Linked DNA regions of Homo sapiens. The protein of the gene in region 2 interacts with the protein of the main gene of each other region in a pairwise test. Each region holds a gene or a part of one and is shown on either strand. Other genes may lie near its edges.

Region 1 (3,123 bases), on a different chromosome or scaffold from region 2:
TAGACCGTCCCACCCATCCCCGCCTCCAGGCCCTGGGAGCTGGACTGAGGACCAGGCCCTAAGAAGGTGCCTCCCGCACAACCACAGGCCCAGGCGGGCCACGGAAGACGCTGCCCGGGCCCTGCGGAGGGCTGGGGCTGGGGCTGGGGCTGGGGCTGGGGCCGGGGCCGGGGCCGGGGCCGGGGTTGGGGTTGGGGTTGGGGCTGGGGCCGGGGCCGGGGCCGGGGCCGGGGCCACAGACTTCACTGCTGGACATGAATAAAGTCCACGGTCGTGGTCCTGCCTGTGTCTGTGCTCAGGGCCTGAGCAGGGGGGCCCGGGAATGTCCTAGCCGGGGCCAAGCCTGTGGGGACAGGGGCACAGGACTCCCACCACCGGCTCCTGGGGCCACCCTGAGTGCTGGCCTGGCCCTCAGCACAGTGGCAGCAGGGTCAGGAAGACCTCCAAGGGCCCCCACCTGGCCTGGGGGCGCAAGACCAGAGGGAGAGGGGCCACGCTGGTGGGGTCACAGAAAGTCCTCGGAGGCCACAAGACGTGTCTGCAGGGGGCATGTTCCCGTTTACTGAGCGCGAGTTCTCTTGGGGTGGAACGGGGACCACCCGTGCCTGCTCCTGGCCAGGCGGGGATCCCCAGCAGGGCTGGGGCCAGCAAGGGAGTGGGGCCCTCAGGCCAGGGTGGAGGCTAGGAGCAGTGCCAGGACGGTGAGAACAGGTCCAGGTCCTAGGAGGCAGGGCGTCCCCGAGAGGGCCTCTACAGAGAGAGGGGTGACTCAGAGCGCCCACCTCCACGCCCCCAGCTCTGCCCCCAGCCCTGGCCTGGCCGCCCCGCCCACCTTGCATGCTGAGGTCTAGGACCAGGTAGCCGTTGGGGATGCCGCCCTGTAGCCCCAGCCCCAGCGTGTCCAGGTCGTCCTGCCGCTGCCGTAGGATCCAGTCCCGCACCGGGCGGTGCCGCTCCTCCGCCTTCAGGCCCTCCACGTGGGGTCCCAGAAGTTTCTGCACCTCAGCCACAGTCAACGGCTGCCAGAGACCCCGGGCAGCCATCAAGGAGGGTCTCCTTCCCTCAGCGCCGCCAGAGGGCTGCCAGGCTCTCCTGTGTCCAAACTGCCCCACCCACAGATGCCCACCGCAGCCTCTCCAGACTTCGGAGGTCTCCGGCCAGCTGACCTCAGCTCAATGGCTGCCCTTCCCTAGGCCCCACCACACGGGAAGATGCTGCCCTTCCTAAGGCCTCGCCCCACTGCAGACCCGCCTTACACGCCCTCCCACCCCCCGTTGGCCCCTCCTCCATGCGCCCCTCCACCAGGGCTTCTCCACTTGCCCCCCCCTCCATGTGCCCCTCCTCCACGCGCCCCCTCCACGCGCCCCCCTCCACACCCCCCCATGCGCCCCTCCTCCTCCACGCGCCCCCCTCCACGCCCCCCCACACGGCCCCCTCCACGCGCCCCTCCTCCACGCGACCCCTCCACGTGCCCCCTCCACGCGCCCCCCTCCACACCCCCCCATGCGCCCCTCCTCCTCCACGCGCCCCTCCTCCACGCACCCCCCTCCACGCCCCCCCATGCGCCCCCCCCACGCGCCCCCCTCCACGCGCCCCTCCTCCACGCCCCCCACGCTCCCCCCTCCACGCGCCCCTCCTCCACGCGCCCCCCTCCACACCCCCCCATGCGCCCCTCCTCCTCCACGCCCCCCCACACTCCCCCCTCCACGCGCCCCTCCTCCACGCCCCCCACGCTCCCCCCTCCACGCGCCCCTCCTCCACGCGCCCCTCCTCCACGCCCCCCACGCTCCCCCCTCCACGCGCCCCTCCTCCACGCGCCCCTCCTCCACGCACCCCCCCACACGCCCCCCCTCCACGCGCCCCTCCTCCCACTCGCCCCTCCTCCACGGGCCCCTCCTCCACACGCCCCTCCTCCCGCTCGCCATACCAGCACCGCATCCGTCCGCAGCTTCATGAACGTGGCCAAGTCCATGCTCACATTCTGCTGACTGAGCGCCTTCAAATCCTCCGTGGGGGCCCCACCTGCCCGCCGGGAGAGGGGCCCGAGCTGAGGCCTCACCTCACACCCCCAGGCCCTTGACCACAGGCTGCAGGAAGCCCACTTGCCTTACAGGGCTTCCCTTTTTCCTTAGGGATTCCAGGGCCTGGGTTTGCCTAGCCGCCTGACCCCCAGGCGTGGGAGACCCTGGAGGTGGCTGGCGCCCCGAGCTGGGGTCAGAACCCACAGCCCCTAAGGCCATACACACCCCGGGGGGCAGAGGGCGGGTGACCACCCAGTTACCCTGGCAGCAGACGGCCCGGCGAGGCAAAGGCCTGGCACCCCCGAGTGGAGTCTGTGCTTCCCCCGTTGTGTTGCCCACCCTGGCCAGGGACTCCCTGGCTCACCCAGGAAGGACTGGATCTTCACGAAGTATTCGGACCCGTTCATGTTCTGGAAAGCAAGGCGGGCCTTGGGATAGAGGACGTCCAGCTGCCTTGGGTCACACGTGTCCAGGTCCTGGGGCCTGACCGCCCTGGGGACACGGTGGGTGGACAGTGAGCGCCAGCACACGGACCCACCTTGCCGGGCAGAGTTCTGGGGACTCACCAGATGCTGCTGGGGGGCACGGAGCTCAGCTCCTCGGGGCTGAGGGAGCACAGGTACCCAGGGTAGAAGGCGGTCAGGGTGTCTAGGGTGTCTTTGTCTAGCTGGCCCCTTCCCTTCACAAAGCGGTCGATCAGGGTGGCCACCTGTGGGAGGGGCCGCCGAGGAGCCTTGTGGCAAGGAGAGATGTATCCCTCCACCACCAGCATAACCTCAGGCCGTGCCCCTGACCCCAGGCCCGCCCAACCTCAGGCTTTGTCCCCCACTCTGCCCCTCAGCCCTTCCCAATCTCATGCCACATGACCCCCGAGCCGGACGGTCACCTGAGGACTCATTTCGTGCCCTTTGTTGACTTCAAGCAAAGCCTTCAGGGTCTCCAGGGACGTCACATTCCACTTGCGAATGTCCTCAGGGCTCATCTTGAGGAAGAGGTAGCCCAGGTGCTGGATCACAGACTCGGGGTAACCTTGTGGGTAGAGCTGCAGGCCAAGAGACCAGGAGGGCCCATGTCACTCCCAGAGGGGCTGGGGATGGCTTGG
Region 2 (3,300 bases):
ACGGGGCAGAGCTGCCTCTCAGGCCAGCTCACGCCCTGACCCCCACTGGGATGGTCGTTGGCCCTGCATGGTGCTGCTTTCGGGTGCCCCTGGGCTGCCAAGACTCCTATCCTAAGCCTGGCCTGACAACTCCATGATCAAGAAAGGCATTGCAGGCCGGGCGCAGTGGCTCGTGCCTGTAATCCCAGCATTTTCGGAGGCTGTGGCGAGCGGATTATTTGAGGTCAGGCGTTCGAGACCAGCCTGGCCAACATAGTGAGACCCCCATCTCTACTAACAATACAAAAATTAGCCAGGCATGGTGGTTGGCATCTGTAATCCCAGCTACTTGGGAGGCTGTGGCAGGAGAATCGCTTGAACCCAGGAGGTGTAGGTTGCAGTGAGCTGAGAGTGCACCACTGTACTCCAACCTGTGCCACAGAGCAAGACTCTGGAAAAAAAAAAAAAAAAAAAAAAAAGGGCCCTGCAGCGCGACGGGCTTAACTCCTGGACTCACAGGTGGACTCCATGTCCCAGCCTCCCCCACAGCGCCACATGACCACATGACTGCTGGGTGCTGGCCTCTGGAATGTGGGCAGAATGAGGTGCCACCCTGGGCCTGGTCCACAGAAAGCGGGGGGACACCTCCTGCCTGCACTCACTCCCTGGCTGCTGACTGGGTGCTGACACCCTAGGGCAACTGGGCAGGGTAGGGTCTCTGGGGCTGGGTCTCTGCAGGAGCGCCTGGAGCAGAGCCCCACGCCCACTGTCACCTCCTCCCGAGCTGAGGCCTACGTGAGAACGAACACGTCTCTGGAGTTCAGCACTGGGATTTCGGGGTTTATCTGTTACAACAGATGGTGTCACCTCAACCAATACAGGTTCTTGATTGAAGTAACTTGAGAGGCACCCCCTCTCCCAGTCATCCTCCATCGGTGCTGCCAAAGGGGGAAAGGCCACGGGAGATGTTCGAGCTCAGGGCCTTGGTCCCCACCTCCCTGCCATGAATTCTGCAAGGAAAGCGCTGCTCGCGGGTGGGCCTTCTCTGGCCACATCCTCCCTGATCAGGCCATGCTGGCCAGTCCTCCAGATAGGATCCATGTTCCTGCCCCAGCCTCCAGCCCTATGTCGAGACCTGAGGGTTGGGGGTGGGATCACAGGCAACCACTCGTGACTCATTCAGGAGCACTCTCTGGGGGGTTGGGAAGCAGGCCAGCCGCCACCTGGTCCTGGTGCCACAGCTGCTCAGCAAGGCCATTGAGTATGTGGGCAACGTCGGCCAGCCCAGCCCGCCCGTCCAGTGTGCGCCCATCAGCCAGCCGCCGCCCCGGCACACTCTTCACCCGTAGCAGGGGCAGCTCCCAGGCCTGCCGGAAGGCTGTGAGGTCCCGCTCGGGCACGTCCGTGTGCATGTACTGGTCAAATCTGGAGGAGGGTCAAGGAGCCTAACTGGGTGCCTCTGCACAGCCCCCCATCAGACCCTGCCTCTCCCTCCTCCCTGGAGCCCACACCCAGGAGCTGGGGTAGCCATGCTGTACCCTTTAAGTAAAAGCCCAGGTGCTGAATTCCATGCCTGGGCAGAGGCTGGGCCCCTGACCCCCTGGCTCCGTGACTTGCCAAGGATATCCAAAGGATACTTGGAGCCGATGACCATCCTGACGACACCAGGGGCCTCACCTGCTATGCGGGCCAGCTGTCCAGGGAGGTCTTCAAAGGAGGCACGGTCAGTGAAGGAGAAGAGGAAGAGGAAGGCATCTGTGTTCTCCATGCAAGCCTGGTGATGGAGAGGCATATAACCATGTCACCCCCCATCAGCTGCAGGGCCCTCAGAAGAATCAGGAATAATCCCTCCTTTCACAGATTGGGAAACTGAGGCCCAGAGCAAGGAGCGGCTGGTCCTAGGACAAGCATGGGCTGGGACTGTCTCCAGTGCCAGCTCAGGTCTCTGAGCAGTGCCTTGAGCTCATTAATACCCAATCGGCCCCTGGCAGAACCCACCCAGGCCCACATGCCTGCTCACCAGCAGCATATGATCGAACTTTTTGAGTGCAGACTCTCCACAGTCCCAGAACTCAAAACGAAACATGACGACACGGCTGCTGGCCTGCAGCTTGGCTGGCCAAAATACCACGGTGGTCTGGATGCCTGAGGGGGAGCCAGGGTCAGCCACTCACCATGGGAGAGGTGGAGATGGGAGGAATAGGGGACCAGGAAGGAATAGGAAGAAGAGATACATCCCTGCCCTGATGGGTCCCTAGTTTGATGAGGGAGGCACAGTCCTTGACCCGGGATAATTCTCAGTCTGATGGGAGAAACAGAAACTGGCCCTGGAGGAGACTCTGGTACACCAGGAAGATGCAGCCCTAGCTATGGCAAAGCAAGTTTCGTTTGTATGTCCAGGGAGACCCAAAGGGCCCAGGACGCTGGGAGATGTTTCAACATGGTGGAACAATCAGCATCCAGTGGTGAGAAACAACAAAGCAAGATTAGCATTTCCTGAGCATTTACCTTGAGCGTAGCTTGATGCTAGGCATGTTACCACCACCACCACCTCTAGTGGCAACCACACAACAACCCTGTGGTACTATTATCCCCTTGGGACCAAGGAGCCCATGTAGGCTCAGAGACGTGAAGTGACTTTCCAAGGCTACAGAGTAAGAGGTGGTCCAGGGCCAGGTTCTTGCCTCCACCCCCAAGGAGGGCCTCCCAGGATGGGCAAAGGATAGAGGTCCCACTCACCGGTGGTCTCGTGGTGCACCACAGGCACCTCCAGGCCAGCCAGCTTGGCCACCAGCGCCGTCTTGCCCACACCACTCTTCCCGGACACAAAGATCTTGTAGCTGGCAGTGTCAATGGACACAGGCGGCAGCAGCACTGGCCGCTCAAGCAGCCCTAGGGCAAAGAGAGAGCCAGGCAGGGTCAAGGGGTGCTGTGGTTTGAAGGTGTCCCCCAGAGTTCATGTGTTGGAAACTTAATCGCCAATGCACCAGTGTTAGGAAGTGGGGCCTAACACAAGGTGATCAGCTGCCCTCATAAATGGATTAATGTTGTTATTGAGGGAGTGGGTTTGTTATAAAAGCCAGTTTGGGCGCCTCTTGCTGTCTTGCTGTTGCCCTTCTGCCTTCTGCCACGGGATGACACAGCATGAAGGCCCTTTCCAGATGCTGCTGCCATGTTCTTAGACTTCCCAGCCTCCAGAACCATGAGCCAAATAAGCTTCTGTTCATTATAAATTACACAGAGGAGGCCTGGTGCGGTGGCTTACACCTGTAATCCCAGCACTTTGGGAGGCCAAGGCGGGCAGATCACCTGAGGTCAGGA

The links.
Region 1: the proteins of CPLANE2 (region 2) and MSLN interact in a two-hybrid assay, tested with the Homo sapiens proteins (one large-scale study listed by BioGRID and IntAct).

Annotation. Positions count from the first base shown.
Region 1 is NC_000016.10:766,275-769,397, reverse strand, and holds the end of MSLN (mesothelin isoform 1 preproprotein), read right to left. Parts: intron 3,064-3,123; coding exon 2,908-3,063; intron 2,755-2,907; coding exon of another isoform or gene 2,731-2,754; coding exon 2,588-2,730; intron 2,514-2,587; coding exon 2,386-2,513; intron 2,023-2,385; coding exon 1,928-2,022; intron 1,020-1,927; coding exon 833-1,019; intron 751-832; coding exon 665-750; 3' UTR 536-664; downstream 1-535. UniProt on the Homo sapiens protein: Membrane-anchored forms may play a role in cellular adhesion. Megakaryocyte-potentiating factor (MPF) potentiates megakaryocyte colony formation in vitro.
Region 2 is NC_000001.11:16,230,894-16,234,193, forward strand, and holds the end of CPLANE2 (ciliogenesis and planar polarity effector 2), read right to left. Parts: intron 2,872-3,300; coding exon 2,719-2,871; intron 2,125-2,718; coding exon 2,000-2,124; intron 1,754-1,999; coding exon 1,617-1,753; coding exon of another isoform or gene 1,606-1,616; intron 1,405-1,605; coding exon 1,155-1,404; 3' UTR 799-1,154; downstream 1-798. UniProt on the Homo sapiens protein: Required for efficient primary cilia initiation, regulating a late step in cilia initiation. Plays a role in the final maturation of the mother centriole and ciliary vesicle that allows extension of the ciliary axoneme.